Linked DNA regions of Homo sapiens. The protein of the gene in region 1 interacts with the protein of each later gene in a pairwise test. Each region holds a gene or a part of one and is shown in the gene's direction. Other genes may lie near its edges.

What was found.
Region 2: the proteins of TOM1L1 (region 1) and PDPN interact in a two-hybrid assay, tested with the Homo sapiens proteins (one large-scale study listed by BioGRID and IntAct).
Region 3: the proteins of TOM1L1 (region 1) and CWF19L1 interact in a two-hybrid assay, tested with the Homo sapiens proteins (one large-scale study listed by BioGRID and IntAct).
Region 4: the proteins of TOM1L1 (region 1) and CELF1 interact in a two-hybrid assay, tested with the Homo sapiens proteins (one large-scale study listed by BioGRID and IntAct).
Region 5: the proteins of TOM1L1 (region 1) and GLUD2 interact in a two-hybrid assay, tested with the Homo sapiens proteins (one large-scale study listed by BioGRID and IntAct).
Region 6: the proteins of TOM1L1 (region 1) and RAB18 interact in a two-hybrid assay, tested with the Homo sapiens proteins (one large-scale study listed by IntAct).
Region 7: the proteins of TOM1L1 (region 1) and UBXN4 interact in a two-hybrid assay, tested with the Homo sapiens proteins (one large-scale study listed by BioGRID and IntAct).

Annotation. Positions count from the first base shown.
Region 1 is NC_000017.11:54,910,852-54,914,351, forward strand, and holds part of TOM1L1 (TOM1-like protein 1), read left to right. Parts: intron 1-1,814; coding exon 1,815-1,964; intron 1,965-2,896; coding exon 2,897-3,022; intron 3,023-3,500. UniProt on the Homo sapiens protein: Probable adapter protein involved in signaling pathways. Interacts with the SH2 and SH3 domains of various signaling proteins when it is phosphorylated. May promote FYN activation, possibly by disrupting intramolecular SH3-dependent interactions.
Region 2 is NC_000001.11:13,614,832-13,618,457, forward strand, and holds the end of PDPN (podoplanin isoform a precursor), read left to right. Parts: intron 1-1,073; coding exon 1,074-1,080; 3' UTR 1,081-3,126; downstream 3,127-3,626. UniProt on the Homo sapiens protein: Mediates effects on cell migration and adhesion through its different partners.
Region 3 is NC_000010.11:100,243,639-100,247,138, reverse strand, and holds part of CWF19L1 (CWF19-like protein 1), read left to right. Parts: intron 1-203; coding exon 204-344; intron 345-1,225; coding exon 1,226-1,340; intron 1,341-3,361; coding exon 3,362-3,441; intron 3,442-3,500.
Region 4 is NC_000011.10:47,546,633-47,550,132, reverse strand, and holds part of CELF1 (CUGBP Elav-like family member 1), read left to right. Parts: intron 1-3,500. UniProt on the Homo sapiens protein: RNA-binding protein implicated in the regulation of several post-transcriptional events. Involved in pre-mRNA alternative splicing, mRNA translation and stability.
Region 5 is NC_000023.11:121,046,245-121,050,409, forward strand, and holds GLUD2 (glutamate dehydrogenase 2, mitochondrial precursor), read left to right. Parts: upstream 1-1,365; 5' UTR 1,366-1,440; coding exon 1,441-3,117; 3' UTR 3,118-3,850; downstream 3,851-4,165. UniProt on the Homo sapiens protein: Important for recycling the chief excitatory neurotransmitter, glutamate, during neurotransmission.
Region 6 is NC_000010.11:27,507,304-27,510,803, forward strand, and holds part of RAB18 (ras-related protein Rab-18), read left to right. Parts: intron 1-2,571; coding exon 2,572-2,627; intron 2,628-3,500. UniProt on the Homo sapiens protein: The small GTPases Rab are key regulators of intracellular membrane trafficking, from the formation of transport vesicles to their fusion with membranes.
Region 7 is NC_000002.12:135,748,355-135,751,854, forward strand, and holds part of UBXN4 (UBX domain-containing protein 4), read left to right. Parts: coding exon 1-15; intron 16-3,500. UniProt on the Homo sapiens protein: Involved in endoplasmic reticulum-associated protein degradation (ERAD). Acts as a platform to recruit both UBQLN1 and VCP to the ER during ERAD.

The DNA of each region.
Region 1 (3,500 bases):
TTAAACGCTATATGCTGCCGCTTTATGTATTGCCATTAAAGAGAGACTAAAAATACAAAGCATGGCATGAAGTCCATTTTCAGGGCTTCTATTCTGCAGAGATGATTATACCTATCCTGGTCATGCTATGGTTTCTATGACCTTTCTAATTTGAGGTGGTAGCATGGAAACTAAAGATTTAATTTTGTTTTTAGTTTACTTTTAGAAATCTACTTCCTGCATGCAGTTCTTCAGTATTGGTTCATTCTTTCTTAGTCAAGTTTCTGCTCATGTTGCTTTATTGCAAATGTGTTTTTCAAGGGAACTGATGTTCCTCAGACCATCTTCTTAACTGTATAACACCCCATCCTCCAGGAAACTTTTCTTTTGACTTTACCAAAGGGGTGCCTTATGTATTCCTGATTTTGTGCTTCATTTTCTGTCAGTTACTCTTTGATTGCCTTCCTTGGATTTTCGTTGGCCCGTATAGTAGGTGAACCCCAGTGTTTCAGCCCTTCCTCTTCTCTTCTCATTGTAGGCAGCCTTGATGACTCACTTTTGGCCCTTCACTCTCTTGAACTATAGCTGTGTGTGTCCAGCTCACTGCTAAACACCTACTTAAATGCCCCTTATCTTTTGAACTCAAAATATCTAAATTTCAGCCCATCATTTTTACACCTAGACCAGCCATACCACCCCCTCTTCCAAATTTCCGTCACAGGGGTCCTCATGCAGAATGAGAGTCACTTAACTTTCAGTCATCTTCCTTTTTTGACCAGCACTGTCATTCAAAGTTCTTCCTTCATAATGGTGTCATGACTCCTCCTTTTCTTGTACCCACATCATCTTAGTTTAGGCCTTTTCTATAACATGCCTGAAATAGTGCATTGCTACTGGATCTTTCTATCATTCCAGGTTTCTTCTCCCTCCGCTTGCCTTTGCAGAGTGCTGCCTGACAACCTATCCAGAATATTACTTTGCACACATTAACCTTTTCCTCAATTTCAGGGTACAGGTGTGATGGTGACAAACTAACAGAGACCCTCCATAACTTCATAGTGCCTTCAAGATAATATCCACACCCTTTGCATGCCACACAAACTTCTCTACAACCTGGACGGACTTTATCCACCCTATCTTTCCAGTGTCCCCAATTTACCTATATCAGGATGCCTCTACTAGAGACAGACCAGAATACTTATCTCCCCCTTCATAACTTACCCATTTTTCCACATTTATATATTTTTCATACAATTTATCTGTCTAGAATATAGCTCTATACTCATTTTTACTGTTCTTAGCCATTTTGCAAAGCCCAGCTTCCAGTTAGCCTTTTCCAAAAGTCTTGTAAGACCACCTAGCCCTAAATAATCACTCTTGCCTATAAGGGCCTATAGCTGGGGTGACTGTGTAATTTATCATCCAAACCAGGACATTTTTGAAAGTGAAAGGGTGTGTCATCATTAATAAACAGGACATTGGGAATATACCTGTGCTACCCTGGGTAAACTGGGACAGATATTATTCCATCCATAGCTCATATGTTTGGCCTGCACGTCCCTTCAGCATTTAGCATTTAGTACTCTGCATTGGTGTTAATGCCCTTCTGGATGTGCTGGGACTCCTCAATAAGTCTGTCCTCCAGACTGTTACATTATGCTCATACTTCCACATATCCCCAGAACCTAACATTTTGCCATATATTTTAGTAGATACTAAATTATGTTTGTTAATTAGGATGCTGATGGAACCCATTATTTAGCAGTTTTTCCCTTACATTTTTAGGAGGTGGTTTTGCCAGATAAATATAATGTTTAATTTTTTTTCTAATTTAGCTTATTGACATGTGTGTGCAGAACTGTGGTCCAAGTTTCCAGTCTCTGATTGTGAAGAAGGAATTTGTTAAAGAGAATTTAGTTAAGCTACTGAATCCCAGATACAACTTGCCATTAGACATTCAGAATAGAATCTTGAATTTCATTAAGGTAAGTCTGTTGTATACCTCATGGGATGGTAAATTTCTAAGATTAGGGATTTAATAGCTTACCTCCTGATTGTTTCACTTATCTTTTATATATCTAGGATTGAGCTAGAAAAGCATTTTTGCTATTTTAGTTTCTGTGTAATAATAATTTTTTGGCATTGGATGGTGCCCTTTTTCTGAAGAATTTGTAGTCATTTCCCTGCTTTCCTCTCAGTTTCTATTTTATCTGTGTCAAATAGGAAAGACAGTGATCTGTGTGTTCACTTTGCAGGTAGGGAAACTTCCAGCTAACTGACTAGTTCAAGGTTACTTGGAAAAAGAGCTACTGATGTTATTTTAGAATCTATTAATTTTGGATTCAGAGCAGCAAAAAACAATTGATAGTATATATCCTAGGGTTTCTTCAAGATTTTGAGGCATGGAAATCTGATTTAAAAGATTTTATATTTTCCTAGCCTTTGAAAATGAGCATTTTGCCCATGGCATTCAAAAGTAGCTTTCTCTTTCTGAGTGGGGTACATAATTATTGATCTCTTATTTTCTATCAGGAGCTTAAGAATTGTGTTTTCGGCTGGGTGCGGTGGCTCACGCCTGTAATCCCAGCACTTTGGGAGGCCGAGGTGGGCAGATCACAAGGTCAGGAGTTCGAGAGCAGCCTGGCCAACATAGTGAAACCCCGTCTCTACTAAAAAATACAAAAAGTAAGCCAGGCGTGGTGGCGGGCGCCTGTAATCCCAGCTACTCAGGAGGCTGAGGCAGGAGAATCGCTTGAACCCAGGAGGCGGAGATTGCAATGAGCAGAGATTGTGCCATTGCACTCCAGCCCGGGCAATAGTGTGAGACTCTGTCTCAAAAAAAAAAAAAAAAAAAAGAATTGTGTTTTGGTTTTGTTGCTGTTTTAACTCTGGAACTTTTTTCATCTCTTGAATTCAGACTTGGTCACAGGGCTTCCCAGGAGGTGTGGATGTAAGCGAAGTCAAAGAAGTATACCTCGACCTGGTTAAGAAAGGCGTTCAGTTTCCTCCCTCAGAAGCAGAGGCTGAAACAGCAAGACAAGAGGTAGGAGGCCTTTCTTTGACCCATGGAGACTATAGTAGTGTATCACTTGGGTCTTTTCTCATTACAGGAGACAACCCTAAATCCACCCAGCTTAAGCAAAAAGATGAAGTTATTAGAAGGATATTGCAATATCTCATAGAATAACCGAGACTTGGGATTTTGCTACTTAAAGTGTGTTTTGCTACTAAAAGTATGAAAGTTTGTTTGGCATGTTCCACCCTAGACTAATCAGAACCTCCCTTTTTACAAGATTTCCAGGTGTTTTCTCTGCACATTAATGTTGAGAAGCACTGGCCTAGAGCCTTGAGCTTTCACCTCTCCACCCAAGGTTGGAGATGTGGCATTGACCCAAGGAGGGTCATTGATGGAGAAGGAGATGCCTTGTCAGCTGTGGCTTAAAAGGACTTGACATGAATTGAGCTACCATTTGTTATTAACAACCCAAAGAGAAGGCATCAATAATCTCACATGGCAGTTT
Region 2 (3,626 bases), on another chromosome or scaffold:
GAAGTTTCCCCAGAAGGACAAATGTCTACTTAGACCTTATAAATTTCCAAAATAAGAGAGTCAGAGCCAGAGGTGGCTTGTAAGTTGACTTCTGTTGAGATCTGACCACATTTGATCTCTTGTTTTAATTTTCCAACTAACTGAACTTGGAAGAAAACCCAAACCAAGTTTTAATCTGATGCCTAATCAGCCCGTCTCCAACCATCAGAGAAAAGGCTTCTAGAAAACCGCCTGTCACAGAGTCGGCAGCCCATTCGGATTAGGAGTTCCACTGAGGATGGGGTCTTTTTCATTGAGATCTTCCGCTCTTGCCCTGCGTGCACCCACATACGTGGTCATAGACTCCTAGCTTTGACTGTTGTTGAAGGGAAGGAGTTTTTTCTCCTTATTAAGCTTCCTTAAGAATTCAGAATATCTACACTCATGGCCAGAGGAAACCTTTTTCTTTCTCTTTCTTTTTCTTTTTCTTTTTTTTTGAGACAGTCTTGCTCTGTCACCAGGCTGGATGGAGTAGTGCGATCTCGGCTCACTGCAACCTCTGACTCCCAGGTTCAAGCGATTCCCCTGCCTCCGCCTCTCAAGTAGCTGGGACTACAGGCATGCACCACCACACCTGGCTAATTTTTTGTATTTTTTAGTAGAGATAGGGTTTCACCATGTTGGCCAGGATGGTCTCAATCTCCTGACCTCGTGATCCACCCACCTCAGCCTCCCAAAATGCTGTGATTACAGGCATGAGCCACCGCACCCAGCCAAAAACCTTTTTCTTATATGAGTTGGAGGGATGATATATGATGGAAGGGAGGGGAGAGGACAAGTGATAAACACCTGGAGGGTTGAGGGATACAGGGGACAACACAGCTGTGGACTTAGCGTGTTTGGAAAAGCCAGGCAGTTTGACCCTGCTGTGTGAGGACGAAGGCATGGAGGAGGAATGTCAGGAACAAGAGATGATCACCAGGTGTCAGAACTTGGAAGATTTAGAGCAAAGGACAATAGGAAAAAGGACTCACGGAGTTACTATTCACAATGCCAGTAAGAGACACGACCGTCACCCTTCTCTATTTTCACAGGCCCTAAAGAGCTGAAGGGTTACGCCCTGCTGCCAACGTGCTTAAAAAAAGACCGTTTCTGACTCTGTGCCCTGTCCCTGAGCTCGTGGGAGAAGATGACCCGTGGAACACTTGCCTGGCCCACTCAGAATCCACGGTGACCTCTCCGCTTGCCAAAATAACCGAAGGAAAGACCGTTCACCAGACTTGGCTCCTCTAAACATTTGCTGTTCAAACATGTTTTTGAATATACATTCTATAAAAGATTATTTGAAAGACAAAATTCATAGAAAATGGAGCAAAACTGTATAAACTGATTTGTAACTAACACTGGACCATTGGATCGATATTATATGCTGTAACCATGTGTCTCCGTCTGACCATTCTTGTTATTGTTAAAATGCAGAGGAATCTGGAAATATTTATATCCACGGAGTCCTTGGATCCAGTGCTACGTCAGTAAATAGCACCAGCATTTTGCAATTGCTGATCTGCTGAAATGTACACATTCTGGTCTAGTTTGGTCTATCTTTTAAAGCCTGATCTGGTGTGAATAATCAACTAGGAAATCTAAACTTGGATAACACGTGGTGAACAACTGCCTTTAGCTGGTCCAGATTAATCATTTCAAAGACATCCATTTTAGATCACAAGCAGGAAGTCGATAGTCTCAAAGGCACTTTGTTTCTCCCAAGTAGGCCACCAGGCAGCCTCTAGAGTTGCTTTACCCAAATCCTTCTCCAGCCATGACTTGGTGACTCTAAGCTTGCTCCCACCTGCCCCCTCCACTTCCCTCAGATGATGAGGAGCCAGGGCTAAGGGGGCAGCCTTCTCTCTTCCCAGTGATGCACATCCTTCACATTGGCTGCTTTGTTCTGGAATATGGATATCTCAGCCTGGATGCCGAGGAAGCTGCTGGATGCTTAATGGTGCTAGAGGCTCAAGTGTGTTTGAAACCAAGAGCCAGTTGTCCCCCATGCAGAAAGAAATCCTGTGTGAGCCTCTGGTATGAGAAATAAAATCTGCCAGTTTTATAACATTCACTTTCTGCCTCTGAGGAAAGATACAGGGAACAAAAATCAATTTGTACAGTCTTAATATTAAAAGCAGCTTGACTAAATACCTGATTTAAAAATAGAAGACATCCCCAGTCCTCATGACATACCGCAAATATCTGTGGGGTCCTGTTGAAAAGAACAAAATAAAGGAGCCCAAGGGGTCATTCTGTCTCAGCACCATCCAGCCTGGCACTTCTCTTCCCATATATCCATTGGATTTTTTTTTTTTTTTCCTAAACAAAGTTTTTACACTGAGCAGATGCTCTGTCATGATGGCGGTTGTGCAATTCTGGTATCCTCTAAATTTGTAAGCATTCATAAAACAGGAAAAAGTAAACTATCATTCGGAAGCACAGCCCATTCCTCCCATTTTTTGCAATGATGTCTGGATGTTATTTTAAACAGTGTGTCTGTGTGTTCCCAAATCCAGCTGGCCCCACCAGCTCAGATTCCATTTTTTTTGTGTGTGTGTGTGAAACGTAGTCTGCAACTCTGCCTCCCGGCAATTATACATGTGTCAGGATGTCAAAAAGCAATTCTCCTGCCTCAGCCTCCTGAGTAGCTGGGACTACAGGTTCCTACCACCACACCCGGCCAATTTTTGTATTTTTAGTAGAGATGGGGTTTCACCGTATCGGCGAGGATGATCTCTATCTCTTGACCTCGTGATCTGCCCGCCTCGGCCTCCCAAAGTGCTGGGATTACAGGCGTGTGCCACTGCGCTCGGCCTCAGATTCCATATTTGAACACCAGCTGATTGAGAGAAGGGGAATGAGAAGAGCTGGATGAGTTTAAATAACTCATTGTTCAGATTCCTGAACAGGAGTTGGGATAATGGCCATCTTTTCTTTCCTATCCTTTCTTCCCCCCTCACTGTGAAAAATAACAGTCCACCCCAAGTCATACACTGGACCCAGTGCCTGCGGGGACAGGACTGTGGGTTTCTTGGTCACACCTGTGTTGGTGCTCAATGCAGTGTAGACATGTTTTCAAATAAAACAAATGATTGTGTACAACAATGAGTCAGACTTTTGTTGGAAAACACAAGTCTGGGCCACACTTGGGAACATCTCCAGATAAGATTACAACTTAGGTAAATGCCTGCCTGTTGCCTTGCTTGAGAGTGGATTATAGATGGCCAGGGGAATGAATTCCACAGGAGGAAAACACACCTACACCTTTCAGCTAGGTCTGCCAAAGTAGAGAGGTCAAGTAGAAGCATGGGCATGGGAGACACGTGGCACCTGGGGGCTCTCTCCCTCTCTGGTCCCAAAGGGTTAATGAGGTTTTCCCTGATTTTTTCTGTTTTGTTTTGAGATGGAGTCTCGCTCTGTCGCCCAGGCTGGAGTGCAGTGGCGCGATCTCGGCTCACTGCAGCCTCCACTTCCTGGGCCCAAGCAATTCTGTCTCAGCCTCCCAAGTAGCTGGGACTATAGGCGTGCACCACCACACCCACCTAATTTTTGTATTTTTAGTAGAGACGGGGTTTCACCACATTGGCCAGGATGGTCTTGAT
Region 3 (3,500 bases), on another chromosome or scaffold:
AACCCTTGGTGAGCCCCTGCAGAGGCCACTGAATTGGCATTTGATTTACTGTTTACTCTCTGAGCTATGGATGGGCTGGTTGCTGTTCTTTTAATTTTACTGAGTTTCACATGTTTTCTGTGAAATCTTCACAGTAAAATAGGTTGATTACAGTTGGGTAAATAGTATTTCCCCTAATGTCATTATGTTCTTTTTCTCTAAAGTATCTTTACGCGTTCAGTATTGTTCCCATGAAGCTAATGGATGCAGCAGAACTGGTAAAACAGCCTCCGGATGTCACTGAAAACCCTTACAGAAAATCTGGGCAGGAAGCATCCATAGGAAAGCAAATTCTTGCCCCTGTGGTATGTTCTGATTGAGGGTTGGCATTTTTATATGTGTTCTTTTCCTAGTTATAGTTTAGTACATAAGACAAGTTTAATCGTTAGAATCTAAATCTTTTTTTTCCCCTTGGGAAATCATGATGATGTTTAGAAAATCTTAGTAGATTTCAGCTAAGCTTAGTGTTTTTTATTGTAGTTTGGGGTTAACAGTTTGATACATTAGGTCTTTCTTTGTCCAAACTGGATTCAGACGTTTGGGGTTACAGTTTTATTTGTAAAGTCTTTGTCTAAAGTGATTATCTGTTCTTAGCTCTTTAGGCAAGGCTCTAGCAGCTTCATAGCAATGTAATTTGTGATTTTATGATGATTGCTAGTAGGAAAATAAGATTCACTCTGAAGAAATTTTCTTAATAGCAGAGTTTTCTCAAATTAATTTTTTCCCCACTAAAGCAAGGAATGTCAAGTTCCCTTACTAGCATGCACGGTCTGCTTTCTCAGACTTTTCTTTCTTTCCAAGCAGCCTTCTCATCTCTTAAGGCTGAATTAGGCTTGTTTGACCTGTGAAATTGTATGACTACACTATGTCCCTGTTGAGAGAAAAAAGAAAAGAGAATTTAGGTGGGTTCATGTTCTGCTTTAGGCAAGAATTACTTTATAACTTGCATTTTAACTCGTTTTTCCAAAGAGATGAATTTGGCAGTAGTTTGGATAAGTGTTGATGTATGACTGAGACTTCAGGCATCAGAACTGGGAAGATATTTTGCTTCCCTAGAGTGTGCAGAAAGGACTGAGAAGAAAGATAGGTATGGCATGGCAGGAATGTTCCCTTGTATGTGAGTGGTCGGCTACTTATCTAAAGGTTAGTTGAATAACATTTAATCTTCTGCTTTTGGCCATTCCAGGAAGAATCAGCCTGTCAGTTTTTCTTTGATTTAAATGAAAAGCAGGGAAGGAAGCGTTCATCCACAGGTAGAGATAGCAAATCTTCTCCTCATCCAAAGCAGCCTCGCAAACCTCGTAAGTACCTTTATTCCAGAGGTTTCTTCTATGAACAGTAACTGTTATTTTGGCTTTTCTTTGGAAAGCAGCATTGCTAAGAGAGCCTCTTCTGGCAGGGGAGAATTGTGCAATGAGTCATTAGGACCAACAGTAAAAATAAAATATAAACATGGCCTTGGCCAGGTGTGGTGACTGCACCATCTTATATTCCCACTGGCAATGTATGAAGGTTTCTGCTTTTCCACATCCCTGTCAACATTTGTTATAGCAATAGCCAGTTTTACAAGATAGCTCCCTCTTTTCCTGTCTCATAAATAGGTATGGTTCTCTAGGGGTGATGCTTTTATATACTTCTTGGACTCTGTATTTTTAGCCCATCTACTTGAGAGTGATGAGTTCCTTTTGCTAATTACCATTTAAAGCAATTTTCTTTGTCCTAAAAAGGCAGTCTTCTGTTGCTTATATACCCATATTGGGATAAAAGCGTTGATATTCTTGGCCAGGTGTGGGGGCTCATGCCTGTAATCCTGTACTTTGGGAGGCTGAGCCAGGCGGATCACAAGTTCAGAATTTTGAGACCAGTCTGGCCAACATAGTGAAACCCCTTCTCTACTAAAAATACAAAAATTAGCCAGGTGTGGTGGCACGGTCCTGTAGTCCCAGCCACTCAGGAGGCTGAGGTGGAAGAATTGCTTGAACCCAGGAGGCAGAGGTTGCAGTGAGCCGAGATGATGCCATTGCACTCCAGCCTGGGTGACAGAGTGAGACTCCATCTCAAAAAAAAAAAAAAAGTTGATATTCTTTTTATAGCTTCAGATTCAGAAACTAGAGCTTTATGAATTTTTATCTAGAATTATGTAATGCTGGAAACTGATTCACACTAACTGTAATCCCAGCACTTTGGGTGGCCGAAGCGGGTGGATCACTTAAGGCCAGGAGTTGGAGACCAGCCTGGCCAACATGGTGAAACCCTGTCTCTACTAAAAATACAAAAAATTAGCAAGGCATGGTGGCACCCACCTGTAGTCCCAGCTCCTCAGGAGGCTGAGGCATGAGAATCGCTTGAACCCAGGAGGCGGAGATTGCAGTGAGCCAAGATTGCACCACTGCACTCCAACCTGGGTGACAGAGCAAGGCCCTGTCTCAAAAAAATAAAATAACGGGCCAGGCGCGGTGGCTCACGCCTATAATCCCAGCACTTTGGGAGGCCGAGGTGGGCGGATCATGAGGTCAGGAGATCGAGACCATCCTGGCTAACACGGTGAAACCCCGTCTGTACTAAAAATAGAAAAAATTAACCAGGCGTGGTGGCAGACGCCCGTAGTCCCAGCTACTTAGGAGGCTGAGGCAGGAGAATGGCATGAACCTGGGAGGCGGAGCTTGCAGTGAGCCGAGATCGCGCCACTGTACTCCACCCTAGGCGACAGAGCGAGACTCCGTCTCAAAAAAAATAAAATAAGAATGGCCTGACTTCGAGGCTGTTCTGAGGCGCTTCCTGTACTATGGAAAAAGCACCTTTCCTTTGTGTCTGTAAAACATAATGAGGTGAAGAGCCTCCAAAACCAATATGGGTTCATAAAATAATAGAATGATCAAACTCGAAGGAAGGACTTTAAGAGTGTTTCATTGAGATTCTCTTTCTTCATCTTTTTGTTTCACACAAGAAGCTGACCTTGGGAGGGTAAATTTTCCAGGGTCATGGCTAATGGCATAGCTGGGGCTTTAATTGGGGCTCCTGACACCCAGTTCAGTGTTCTTTTGTTGTAGCCTATTGCCAGTTATGTGCTACTTTAGTCAGTGTGTGATTTTGCACTTGTGGGTTACCTACCTGTGGATTGGTTACAAATTCTAATGGAAGTTTAATTTCATTGAAAATGTTCATAGGGGGTCGTAGTGAGGAGCACAGGCTCAGCCCATTGTGGCAGTGTTGTATACCAGTCTTTTCAGGATATAAAAATCAGACAAAGCTGAGTTCTGTGGGGTGATTATATGCTGTAGTGCTTGGACCATAGTAACACCTGGCTTTCTTTTACATGAAGCTCAGCCTCCAGGACCCTGCTGGTTTTGCCTTGCTAGCCCTGAAGTGGAAAAACATTTGGTGGTCAACATCGGCACACATGTGAGTTACTTCCTTGGACTTTATAGAGAAGGAGATGCCTATTTGTTTTTTATTAACTT
Region 4 (3,500 bases), on another chromosome or scaffold:
GGTTAAAAACACAAAATTGGCTGGGCGCAGTGGCTCACACCTGTAATCCCAGCACTTTGGGAGGCTGAGGTGGGCGGATCACGAGGTCAGGAGTTCGAGACCAGCCTGGCCAATATGGTCAAACCCCATCTCCACTAAAAATACAGAAATTAACCAGGTGTGGTGGCATGTGCCTGTAGTCCCAGCTACTTGGGAGGCTGAGGCAGGAGAATCCCTTGAGCCCAGGAGGTGGAGGTTGCAGTGAGCTGAGATTGCACCACTGCACTCCAGCCTGGGCAACAAGGCAAGACTCTGTCTCAGAAAAAAAAAAAACAAAAAAAACCCACAACATTTACTAACTTAGCCATTTTTAAGTGTTCTGTGACATTAAGTACATTCGCACTGTTGGAAAACAGATCTGTGAGTTTTTCATCTTGCGTATCTGAAACTCTATGCCTGTTGGACAACAGCTCCCCTTTTCCCCCTCCTACTAGCCCCTGGTAACCACCATTATTTCTGTTTCTACCAATTTGACTACTTTAGATAACATCATGTAAGTGGAATCATACCATGTCTGTTTTTTGTGACAGACTTATTTCACTTAGTGTAATGTCCTCAAGACTCATCCATGTTGTACTGTGTGACCGGATTTATTTCCTTTTTAAGGCTAATACTCCATTGTGTATATATATATATCATATTGTTTATGGACTGCATCCACTAATGGACTTTTGGGTTGCAGCTACCTCTTGGCTATTGTGAATAGTGCTAATGTGACTAGGTGTGCAAATAGGTATTCCAGCCTCTGGAACAATATCAGTTGTTTTGGATATATACCCCAAAGTGGGATTGCTGGATCAAGTGATAATTCTGTTTTTAATTTTTATTATTTTGAAAGAATCTAGGCCACTGGAATAGTGTTTTTTTATTTGTTTGTTTGTTTTTTGAAGAACCCCTATACTTTTTTCTATAGCAGTTGCACCATTTTACAGTCTTGCCAGTAGTACACAAGGGTTCCAGTTTCTCTACATCCTTGACAATACTTTTTATTTTTTCATGGCCATCTTAATGGGTGTGAGATACCTCACTGTGGTAGTTTTGATTTGTATTTCTCTGCTGACTAGTGATGTTGAGCATCTTTTCATATGCTTGTTGGCCATTTATATATTATCTTTGGAGAAATGTCTGTTCAAGGCCATTTCCCAGTTTTTAATCAAGTTTTTTGATTTTGTATTGTTGAATTATAGAAGTTCTTTATATTTTCTGGATTTTTTTTTTTTTTTTTTTTGAGATGGAGTCTTGCTCTGTTGCCCAGGCTGGAGTGCAGTGGTGTGATCTCTGCTCACTGCAACTTCCGCCCACTGGGTTCAAGCCATTCTCCTGCCTTGGCCTCCTGAGTAGCTGGGACTACAGTCATGCGCTACCACGCCCGGCTAATTTTTGTATTTTTAGTAGAGAGGGAGTTTCACCATGTTGGCCAGGCTGGTCTCGAACTCCCAACCTCAGGTGATCCGCCCGCCTCGACCTCCCAAAGTACTGGGATTACAGATGTGAGCCACCGCACCCAGCCTCTATTTTCTGGATATTAACCCCTTATTAGATAGATGATTTGCAGATATTTTCTCCCATTCTGTAATTTGTCTTTCACTTTGTCGATTGTATGCTTTGATACACAAAATATTTCATGTTCGATATAGTCCCATTTGTTTATTTCTGGTTTTGTTGCCTGCGCACTTGGTGTCATATCCATGAAATCATTGTCAAATCCAATATCATGAAGTTTTTCCTCTATATTTTCTTCTAGGAGTTTTATAGTTTTAGGTCTTACATTTAGGTTGTTTTAACCTTTTTTTTTGAGACGGAGTCTCACTCTGTCACCCAGCCTAGAGTGCAGTGACTCGATCTTGGCTCACTGCAATCTCTGTCGCCCTGGTTCAAGCGATTCTCCTACCTCAGCCTCCCGAGTAGCTGGGATTACAGGTTCCTGCCACTGTGCCTGGCTAATTTTTGTATTTTTAGTAGAGACGGGGTTTCACCATCTTGGCCAGGCTGGTCTTGAACTCCAGACCTCGTGATCCACCTGCCTCAGCCTCCCAAAGTGTTGGGATTACAGGCTTGAGCCACCGTGCCCGGCCCGTTTTAACCATTTTTAAGTGTATAATTCAGTGACATTAGTTACATTGAGGTGTTGTGCAATCATCACTGTGATCTTTCCAAAATGTTTTCATCACCGCATACAGAACCTCTGTAACCATTAAGCAATAACTCTCAATTTTCCCCTCCCCCCAGCCTCTGGTAGCCTCTAATCTATCTTTGTTTCTGTGAATTTTCTTATTCTAGATATTTCATGTAACTGGAATCATGTAATACTTGGCTTTTTGTGTCTGGCTTATTTCACTTAGCGTGTTGTTTTCAGGGTCCCTGCATCATTTTGTAGCATGTATCAGGACCTAATTTCCTTTTTTTTTTCTTTTTTTTTTTTTTGAGATGGAGTTTCGCTCTTGTCGCCTAGACTGGAGTGCAGTGGCGCGATCTCGGCTCACTGTAACCTCCGCCTCCCGGGTTCAAGCTGCCTCAGCCTCCTGAGTAGCTGGGACTACAGGCATGAGCCACCTAGCCTGGCTAATTTTGTATTTTTAGTAGAGATGGGGTTTCACCATTTTGGCCAGGCTGGTCTCAAACTCCTGACCTCAGGTGATCTGCCCGCCTCGGCCTCCCAAAGTGCTGGGATTACGGGCATGAACCACCGTGCCCAGCCCTAATTTCCTTTTATGGCTGTGTTCCTTTACTTCTTGAGGTCAGGAATGTCTCCTTTATTTTGCTATCTTCTCCTCTCTTGGAGTTCTATAAAGGTTCAATTGATTACAATTCATGCTCTTCATATGGATTGCCAATCACAGAGAGACGTCCACTGACATATTCAAACTTCTTGAAAATACAAATATGTCAGCATGTATAAAGTGGTCTATAACGATAATCCAAATCACTGTTTATAGCATTTTAAATTTCTAATCTAGTCAGATTTTCCTATCTTTGAATATACAGCATTTTCTTTCTTTCTTTTTTTTTTTTTTTTTTTTTTTTTTTTGAGGTGGAGTTTCGCTTTTGTTGCCCAGACTAAAGTAATGGCATGATCTTGGCTCACCACAACCTCTGCCTCCCGGGTTCAAGTGATTCTCCTGCCTCAGCCTCCCAAATAGCTGGGATTACAGGCATATGCCATGACCCCCAGCTAATTTTTTGTATTTTTAGTAGAGACGGAGGTTTCTCCAGGTTGGTCAAGCTGGTCTTGAACTCCTGACCTCAGGTGATTCACCCACCTCAGCCTCCCAAAGTTCTGCAATTACAGGTGTGAGCCACTGTGCCTGGCACAGCGTTTTCAAAAAATGTGTGCTGAAAAAGTATCACATGAAGAGGATAAGAATTGACAAGTTCCTGCCTTTGCTTTATACCTATAATATATGAATGGCTTTCTTAGGTGGACCAATTTCTAGGTATCTTATGTTGTGCACAGATAAATT
Region 5 (4,165 bases), on another chromosome or scaffold:
TCTTTTGCCTCACTGGTTAAATTTATTCCTAAGTACTTTACTCTTCTTGATAGTATTGTAAATTGAATTGTTTTATTAGTTCCCTTTTTAGATATTTACTTCATAGCATATAGGAATGTAGCTGATATTTTTGTGTTTATTTTGTATTCAGCAACTTTGTTGAATTTGTATATTACCTCTGTGTATGTGTTTGTCTCCCTCTCTCTCCCTCTGTATAATATTTGGCGTTTGCTACACATAAGGTCATGCCATACGTGAACAGAGGTAATTTTACTTTTTTTCTGTTTTTTTTTCTTTCTTGCCTAATTCCTCTGATTAGAACTTCTAATACTATGTTGAATAAAAATGGCAAATGTAGGCATCTTTGCCTTGTTCTTCATAATAAGACATCCTGTGATTTTTAACATGCATTATGTTGTATGTTTTGGCAGCATTGTTGTTTTTCTTGCAAATAATTTAATAGTTTAACTCAAAGCTTCTAGGATGCTTTCATGTTGTTAGGTGAATCATTCCATGACTGCCGAATAAGGAATTTTCCAAGTGAATCTCAGAAATTTGTGTTTTAATAAGTGCTTCAGGTGATTCTGTTGCATACTCAAGTTTGAGAACCATTGTCCAAGGGGCAAAAGCTGCCATTGCCAATTGCTCTTTTTTATCTGAGAGGGGGCAGGATCCTCCTGGTCCACTGCTTGTGGATGCAACTTATTAAATGAAATAAGGCCATGAGTACTCTAGGGCCCAATCTCTGCTTTTTGTTTTGTTCACTCCTGTTTAAAATTTCACTCAGGGCTCTCTTTGGAAGAATTGCACTTACCTTTGCCATCCGGGGCTGAGGTTTCATTTTCTTTGGTTATTCCCCAGGCCAGTACCATTTGCTTTTTACTTTCCAGAAGTTCTGTAAAGATTGTTGATGGTACCCTTTCTTAGCTTTTTTTTTTTTTTTTGGTCTTGATATAGTCCTATTCTTCTAAAAAATCTTTTCATTTGTCTCCGTCAGACTTTGATGGAGAGGAGGGGAGATATTGTTTACATTTGTTAAAAATGGCTTTTAAGTTAAATTCTAACTAAGGGTCTATTAGGAAATAAAATTGCCTTCTGACTCCTTTTGATTTATTTTGCAGAATTGCATATATCCAAAGCTCTGGGTAATTATTAAACATTAGAAGTATAGAACAAACAGGCCAGCCAGGCCCGGCGAGGCCGCGGCGGGTCCGGCGCCCCGGACCTCCGGACCCGGAGGTCCGGCGCCCTGGTTGGCGCCCTGCCCCCAAAGTCCGTCCTCCCCGTTAGGTGGCGCCCAAGGGGAGGGGACAGCCGGGCAGGCAGGAAGCTGCGGCTTAAAAGGGCAACCCGCGCCGGACCCTTCCTTCCTAGTCGCGGGGAGTCTGAGAAAGCGCACCTGTTCCGCGACCGTCACGCACCCCTCCTCCGCCTGCCGCGATGTACCGCTACCTGGCCAAAGCGCTGCTGCCGTCCCGGGCCGGGCCCGCTGCCCTGGGCTCCGCGGCCAACCACTCGGCCGCGTTGCTGGGCCGGGGCCGCGGACAGCCCGCCGCCGCCTCGCAGCCGGGGCTCGCATTGGCCGCCCGGCGCCACTACAGCGAGTTGGTGGCCGACCGCGAGGACGACCCCAACTTCTTCAAGATGGTGGAGGGCTTCTTCGATCGCGGCGCCAGCATCGTGGAGGACAAGTTGGTGAAGGACCTGAGGACCCAGGAAAGCGAGGAGCAGAAGCGGAACCGGGTGCGCGGCATCCTGCGGATCATCAAGCCCTGCAACCATGTGCTGAGTCTCTCCTTCCCCATCCGGCGCGACGACGGCTCCTGGGAGGTCATCGAAGGCTACCGGGCCCAGCACAGCCAGCACCGCACGCCCTGCAAGGGAGGTATCCGTTACAGCACTGATGTGAGTGTAGATGAAGTAAAAGCTTTGGCTTCTCTGATGACATACAAGTGTGCAGTGGTTGATGTGCCGTTTGGGGGTGCTAAAGCTGGTGTTAAGATCAATCCCAAGAACTATACCGAAAATGAATTGGAAAAGATCACAAGGAGGTTCACCATGGAGCTAGCAAAGAAGGGCTTTATTGGTCCTGGCGTTGATGTGCCTGCTCCAGACATGAACACAGGTGAGCGGGAGATGTCCTGGATTGCTGATACCTATGCCAGCACCATAGGGCACTATGATATTAATGCACACGCCTGTGTTACTGGTAAACCCATCAGCCAAGGGGGAATCCATGGACGCATCTCTGCTACTGGCCGTGGTGTCTTCCATGGGATTGAAAACTTCATCAATGAAGCTTCTTACATGAGCATTTTAGGAATGACACCAGGGTTTAGAGATAAAACATTTGTTGTTCAGGGATTTGGTAATGTGGGCCTACACTCTATGAGATATTTACATCGTTTTGGTGCTAAATGTATTGCTGTTGGTGAGTCTGATGGGAGTATATGGAATCCAGATGGTATTGACCCAAAGGAACTGGAAGACTTCAAATTGCAACATGGGTCCATTCTGGGCTTCCCCAAGGCAAAGCCCTATGAAGGAAGCATCTTGGAGGTCGACTGTGACATACTGATCCCAGCTGCCACTGAGAAGCAGTTGACCAAATCCAACGCACCCAGAGTCAAAGCCAAGATCATTGCTGAAGGTGCCAATGGGCCAACAACTCCAGAAGCTGATAAGATCTTCCTGGAGAGAAACATTTTGGTTATTCCAGATCTCTACTTGAATGCTGGAGGAGTGACAGTATCTTACTTTGAGTGGCTGAAGAATCTAAATCATGTCAGCTATGGCCGTTTGACCTTCAAATATGAAAGGGATTCTAACTACCACTTGCTCCTGTCTGTTCAAGAGAGTTTAGAAAGAAAATTTGGAAAGCATGGTGGAACTATTCCCATTGTACCCACGGCAGAGTTCCAAGACAGTATATCGGGTGCATCTGAGAAAGACATTGTGCACTCTGCCTTGGCATACACAATGGAGCGTTCTGCCAGGCAAATTATGCACACAGCCATGAAGTATAACCTGGGATTGGACCTGAGAACAGCTGCCTATGTCAATGCCATTGAAAAAGTCTTCAAAGTGTACAGTGAAGCTGGTGTGACCTTCACATAGATGGATCATGGCTGACTTCCTCACTAACCTCTTCACGTGTAACTTCTGCAGACCTACCACAAGTTTACATGTAACCACAGAAATCCCTTTCTCTCCTGACTCATTACTAATGGATACCATTCTCAACAAGTCAATCCAAATCAGCCCGTTAAGGAGAAAGAAATTAATATACAAGCTGAGTGTGAAAGTAGAAATCACCTACACCAGAGAGCTATTTTGGTATTTTGCCTTTAAATAAAAAGCCTCCTCCATATGGCTGTGCAGCCTTGCTCTGTGGCTTTTCCCAGCACAATCAGTGCTAGTGCTGGGGAAGGGACAGTCAAGAGCAGTCAGTTGCTTACTTATTTTGCTCTGGATGAGTCTGGGACACGCTGTAACTTTAACACATTTAAGAAGAAGGTGTGTGGCCTTTTCAGAAGGTGGCATGGTCCTCAAGTGAGTTCTTAGTATTTTATATCAGCAAAATAACTCAATTTTGCAGATTGCAAACAAATATAAAAGCTGTTTCTGTTTATGAATTTTATTCTTTTAGAATAGAATAAGTACATGCTGCTGTAATAAAATTGCCTTTAATCACTTAACAAGCCTAACCTTGACTCAGTGAATGCCTATAAAAATAATAAATGAAAAAAAACAGTATTTTTATATCATAAAAGTTTCATTTGTAGCTTATCATTCACGTATTGTTGTCCAGCAAACATTAAAAGCCCTGTGGATAATTACGTTATCTTCATACCTGCAAAACGGTGGAGGCTATTTTCGTTAAAACTGTCAGAATTCGCTGTTATAATTATGACACATAGTCCAAAGAATGCAGTAACCTTTTTATCATGTTAACTAATTGTTCTCTTTTGAAGATCTATGGTTGACTAATTAAACAATAATTCAAGTAGAGTGTCCCAGAAAAAAACCACTTGGGCTCCCTGTTTGGAGTCTGGCTGGCTCTGAGCATTGCCAATGGCCCCTACTCACCTGACTTTGTATCCTCTTCTTTTAGAGGCTTTGCATTCTGCACCCAGCTTCACTAACAGTGGGCTGAAACCAACCT
Region 6 (3,500 bases), on another chromosome or scaffold:
ATCAGGATTATGAAACTGGGGCTGCCACTTGTGTGACCTTGTGTGTGATACTTGAATGCTGTAGGCCTTCATTTCAAAAGCGAGGGGGTTGGAATAGAAACCTCTCAGACCCTAAATGTGTAAGACTCCAATTCTGTGGCTAGGCCTGGTAAGGTAAAGAGTAGCAGAATATATCAAGAACTGGAAGGGATTAGAGAGACCTATTATCTAAATTGCTGTCCCTCCTTTGCCCCTTGCCTTCCCTTTTTTTTTTTTTTTTGGTGAATTTCATATGTAAATTTAAAAAATGCAGATTAGTTATAATCACACTCTGTTTATTATAAATTTGGTCACATCTAAGTGCCATGGTGGTAGTTACTCCTTCCATCTCTACTTCTGCATGGGAAACATTTTGCTCCTTTAACTTTGAAAATATGAGGGTGTAAATATACAATACTATAAGAATGGTGCTTCTGCCAGGTGCAGTGGCTCATCCTGTAATCCTAGCTACTCGGGAGGCTGAGACAGGAGGATCTCTTGAGGCCAGGAGTCCGAGACCAGCTTGGGCAACATAACGAGACCATGCCTCTAAAAAAATAAAAATAAAAAAATTAGCCGGCCATGGTGATGCACACCTGTCATGCCAGTTACTTGGGGGGCTAAGGTGGGAGGATTAGTGAGCTGTGATTCTGCCACTGCATTCCAGCCTGGGTGACAGAGTGAGACCCTCTCTCTTAAAAAAAAAAAAAAAAAAGTGTGCTTCTTAATTATTTTGAGATTGTCAGTTCTTTTCAAAATCTAATAGAGAAATGGACTCTCTGTCCCTTTCAAAGTCTAATAGAGAAATGGACTCTCTGCCTAGAAAAATGCACACATAGAATTTAGAATACTTTTTGGGCTACCAGGGTACCCCTGTCTAAGATCTGATGTATACCCAGAGCCTGTATTAAAATTTGTTGCTTCACACCATGCCACCAATTCCCTGCCTCTCCTTACAAAGTACTGTTAATAACAAAGGCCATTTAAGGATTAGCAATTATGAGAGAAAAACCTCTGGCTTTGTGTCTGCACATTGCCATATGTTCAATAAATAATACCCAATATCATCATTATTGTATTATTATTATGATATTATTACAACTAGTCTACAAGGTAATCTTATGTTTTTGTAGTAATATTTTCTGTGGTGACCACGTGTAGATATTATGTATCTTTTCTTAAATTATGGGTAACTGAGTATGTTGGGAGAGAAGAAAAATTTTATAGGTAGTCTTTAAGAGTCTTACTAGTATTGTTACCTATGTTCCAAGTAACTAAATATAGTCAAGATGTTAAGTAGATAAATCTAGAATTTGACTCTTCTTTTTTACTTTGATTTTATGATGCTGGTTTTATGGTAAACACAAGAAAACAAAACCAAGTAAGGGAGAGTTAATCGTTCAAATATATTTAATGACACTGGGTTTGGAAACTACCAGGAGGCCATTATGTTTTGCAGAAACTCTATGGACAAAACATACCTCTACCAGCAATAATCACAACCTATAGAAAGAGTCATAAGATTTTTCTATAATTTAGATATCTGATGGCTGTTTCTTTGATTTTATTCATGCAAACAGGTCAATTAGGAGAGTCTTATACTTCAGAAGTTAACATGAGGGAAGATTGAATGACTTTAAAATCAAGGGCTTTAACAAAAGCTTAGATTTTATTTTTGAAGAGTTTCTAATAACTGACACTTCTGCTTCATAGTAAGTAAAATAATTCTGGAAGATGTAAAATCTTAGAGTACCCTTCTAATCTGGTGTCTTTTGCTTTTATCCTTTCTTTCTAGTTTCTTACCATTTCCTAGGTTTAGTCCTTTGTTCTCTCTTGCCATAACCATGGCGGTTGTCTTCCATTGATTTTCTTCCATTTTTTGTTAGTATTAACTTTTCAAAACAAAGAGCAGTACTTGTCTTAACTTTCTTTAAAAGCCTCCAGTAGCCTCCAGTTGCCTACTTGGTTTTACACACTCTACCTAGTGTTTGCCCGAGTCTATCTACTCTGTCCTGTGATCTTTCTTTTAACCTCTCTTTTTACTGTATCTTCTCTTAGGTAGTAGCCGTACTGCGTGTTACAGAATGCTCGGCTTTGATATATTTCTGGTTTTGCTTGAATTCAGAGTGGATTACACAATCAGATTTTTTAAAGCTAGTTTGTTGCATTCTAAGAGACTTTATTTTTTCCCTTTTCATCTATGTCAGTTAAAGCATGACATGCTGCTAATATCATTTTCTCAGAAGGACATACCAGAACAGTTAAAAAACAACTACAACAAAAACCCCCACCTTTTGTACTTGGGGGATTGTGTAGGAGAGCACGGGGAATATATTTCATAGTAAACTACTTTGCTCTTGGGATTTTTAAATTGCCTTTCTGGTAATTTAATTTTTCTGTGTATACCTGCTCTGAGGCAGTATTCCTAGGAACAGGCCTACATCAGTTATTTTTATCTGCATCTAATAATTTGTGACCAAATAATCATGAACACATTTATCATATGATTAGAAAATTCAAGTTCCCAACCTGTCTTTTTAATATCTCTTTCAGCCTGCTCTTGAGGTTCACAGATGATACGTTTGATCCAGAACTTGCAGCAACAATAGGTAAGCCTGTGTTTAAAAATTCTATAGAAATGGCCAGTATTTTCTTGCCTTTGGCCTTTTTAATCTAAATCCTTCTACCTTCCTCTCACCACCCCACTGCCTCCATGTCTGTTGAAATCTTATTTGTCCTTCAAGACTTAATTTTGGTATCATTAAATCTTTGAAGCCTTTCTAGATCTTACCAAGAGAAAATAACTTCCTTATCTGTTGTCTCATGATACTTTATTAAAACTGCTAATGTGATTATCTGTACACACATTTCTCTCCTATACTATGGATTGTCTTTTATTTTGTAATATACAACAGTTATTTGAATACTTATTGTATGCCAGGGACTGCTACTAAGAGGAGGGGTTATAATAGTGAATAACAAACTTGGTCTCTGTCATCGTGGACCTAACAGAGTGTGTTAATTTTGTATGTTCAGCATTTGCTACAGTGTTTGACGTGTATTCTTATCTTCACATATGTATTGATACTAGTTATTAAGGATTGTTAGGAGCAATGATACTTAAATGCCTTTTAAGGATAAGATTTAGATCGCCTGAAAGTGGTTAGTCACACTAACTTATGAGAATATATGAGAAGATAGAGGTAAGTATTTTGGTATCATGTGTTTAGACTGCAGACAACGTAAAGGGATGAAGAGACCACTTGGAATAGTTGAAAGGTAGCTGAGCTGAGTCAGAGCTAGATAATAGTCTTGGTTGACTTTGCCTTGAATTACATGTAATCTTGATGAAGTCACTTAACTTACTAACTTCATCTGTAAATTGGGAGGTTTTGTTAAAATTTCATGATCTGATGAGGAGAATATAGTAAAGATGATCCTAGCATTATTGTTAGGGAAAATAAAGAGTTTCTGTTAACTGG
Region 7 (3,500 bases), on another chromosome or scaffold:
AATCGATACCAAAAGGTTTGTTTATGTTTTAATATTTTATTAATTTTAAAATTTATAAGTATTGTCTTTGATTTATAGTGATACTCTTGGACTAGAAGAATGTTGATGTTGGGCTGGGCACTCCCAGCACTTTGGGAGACTGAGGTGGGAGGATCGCTTGAGCCCAGGAGTTAGAGGCTAGCCTGGGCAACATAGTGAGACCCTGTCTCTATAAAAAATAATAATAAAATTAGGAGTGTGGTGTGTGCCTTTGGTCCTGCTACTTGGGAGGCTGAGGGGAGGATCACTTGATCCCTGAAGACTGGGGCTACAGTGAGCTGTGATCATGCCACTGCACTCCAGCCTGGGTGACAGAGTCAAACTCTGTCTCAAAAAAAAAAAAAAAAGAATATAGGCCAGGCACAGTGGCTCATGCCTGTAATCCCAGAACTTTGGGAGGCCAAGACAGGCGGATCACTTGAGGTCAGGAGTTTGAGACCAGTCTGGGCAACACAGTGAGACCTTGTCTCTACTAAAAAAAAAAATACAAAAATTAGCCGGGTGTGGTGGCACACGCCTGTAATCCCAGCTACTCGGGGGGCTGAGGTAAGAGGATCACTTGAGCCCAGGAGGTTGAAGTTGAGGCTGCAGTTAGCAGTGACTGCACCACTGCACTATAGCCTGGGCGAGAGAGCAAGACTATCTCAAAAAAAAAAAAAGAATGTTTATGCTATGTTTTTGGGTATCTAAGGCATATTAGGAACTTAAATTCTGACTGCCGTTTGCTAAATTCATCATGAATCCTGCTGAAAAAACTTTAAGCTTTCCTACTCTACCAAGCAGCCATCTAACATGTACCAGGAATGCAAAAAGAACAGTCATCTCCAGCTTCTAAAAACTTGGAAGTAATGGTAAATCATACATTGAATATCTCTGAGAGGTTGATCACTTACTGTCTTGAATCCTATTTTTGGGAATGGAGTCATTTAATCAGTGGAAATAAGGACATTTATAGGTTCCTCAAAGTACCTGATGTCCACAAGTCTATTTTGTTTCTCCGTTCCTCCTCCCCATCTTTTAAAAAAATTTTTGTTATAGGAAGTTTCAAACATATATGAAAGTAATGTAACAGTGTAATGTACCCCATGTACTTGTCTACTAGCTTTGGTAATTAACTCATGGTCAGTCTTGTTTCATCTATACCTCCACCCATTTCCACTCAATCCAAATAATTTTGAAACAAATCACAGTCACTGTATCACTTCATCTATAAATATTTTAGTATGTCTCTGAAGTATAAGTATTGTTAATTTTTTAAGCATAACTATAATATTAATACTTCACAAACTAATAATAATTCTTTAATATCAAATAACCAGCCAGTGTTCGACTTTTCAGTTGTCTCATCAAAGTCATAGTTTTATTACTTTATTGCAGTTTTTTAGTTCAAAATTATTCAAGGGCCACACATTAGGAAGCATTGATTTCTCTCAGTATGTAGGCTTCTCCTCCAACTCCCCTGCTCCTTGGAATTTATATTTTAAAGACACCAGGTCATTTGTTCTATACATTTGTTCTGTGGTTTCCTACAGTATGGATTTTGTTGACTGCAATGTGTTAGTGTCAAGTTGGTTCTTTCCTGTTTTCTGTATTGATAGGTAGATTCAGGTTTGTTTCCCCTCCCCTCATCCTGTCCTAAGACTACTTCATAGGTAGTGATGTGTCTTCCATCAGAAGACAGATAATACCCTGTTTTCTCTCTTTATGATGTTAGCAGCTATCAGTGATCATTACCTAAAAACATTATTATTTATTTTTTTCTTTGAAGCAGGATTTCACTATGTTGCCCAGGCTGGTCTTAAAATATTGGACTGAAGAGATCCTCCCATGTCAGCCTCCCAAATAGCTGTAGTTACAGGCATGCTTCACTGTGCCTGGTGCTGAAAACATTAATTCATTAGCACTTACAAAGTGGTATTCCTGTCTTTTTGATATTGATACTATCAGAATGAATAATGTGTTTGAAAATCACTGTCAAGATTAAAGCATTCAGAAATTTCTACTCGGGAGGCTGAGGCAGGAGAATGCTGTGAACCCGGGAGGCAGAGCTTGCAGTGAGCCGAGATTGCACCACTGCACTCCAGCCTGGGCAACAGAGCAAGACTCCGTCTCAAAAAAAATAAAAATAAAAATAAAAAAATAAATTCAGAAATTTGCCTATAAGTTTGTAAACTTTATGTAAAAATTTTCTGTGTTTACAAAAACATCAAGTCGTAGTATAGCCTGTCTCACAACAGTTACTGAACTATGTATTTACTGAGTAGTTTTTAAAAAACAGAATCTGTCAATTTAAGTATATCTTTTTTTTTTTATTGTTCATCACCTTCCTGAAGCACCTTTGAGAGTTGGCAGTGGCAAGAAGAATATAGGGATTTATAGGGAATGTGCAATACATGAGAATTCCAGAATTCTTGAGATTGTATACAGACTGATGTGTCTGGCTTTTTTTTTTTTTTTTTTTTTTTTTTTTTTTTTTTTTTGAGACGGAGTCTTGCTCTGTCGCCCAGGCTGGAGTGCAGTGGCGTGATCTCGGCTCACTGCAAGCTCCGCCTCCCGGGTTCACGCCATTCTCCTGCCTCAGCCTCCCGAGTAGCTGGGACTGCAGGTGCCCGCCACCATGCCCGGCTAATTTTTTTTTTTTTTTTGTATTTTTAGTAGAGACGGGGTTTCACCATGGTCTCGATCTCCTGACCTCGTGATCCGCCCGCCTCAGCCTCCCAAAGTGCTGGGATTACAGGTATGAGCCACTGTGCCCGGCCGTGTCTGGCATTTTTAAAAATAAATTACTTTTTTTTATTTTTTATTTTTTTTGAGACGGAGTCTCGCTCTGTAGCCCAGGCTGGAGTGCAGTAACGTGATCTTGGCTCACTGCAAGCTCCGCCTCCCGGGCTCACGGCATTCTCCTGCCTCAGCCTCCCAAGTAGCTGGGACTATAGGCGCCCACCACCATGCCTGGCTAATTTTTAAAATAGTTTTAGTAGAGATGGGGTTTCACAGTGTTAGCCAGGATGGTCTCGATCTCCTGACCTCGTGATCCACCTGCCCCGGCCTCCCAAAGTGCTGGGATTACAGGTGTGAGCCATCGTGCCTGGCCTTAAAAACAAATTTCTATTAGCAGATGCAGGGATACCTGCATATAGTGATGGTTCATGTTTGTTTCACTGTAGACTGCATGCTGATAGAATCTAGTGTGCCTTTAAATTATGGAAAATAAATTTTCTTCATTTCATAATAACTAAGTCACCCAATGTTTTGGGATCATTTTAGTGTGTATGTATTTTTGGAGATAGCGTGCATTGAAAATAGATTAGTAGGAAATGCGTAAAAAGTTTACAATTATTTCTGAAATGGTAGGATTTTGGGTAATTTTTTTTCTTGATTTTTTACTATGTTTTTAAATGTTTTTATGATAATAATGCTTTATATTTGAGGGAAAAAAGCAAATTCTAGTTCTTAGAAGC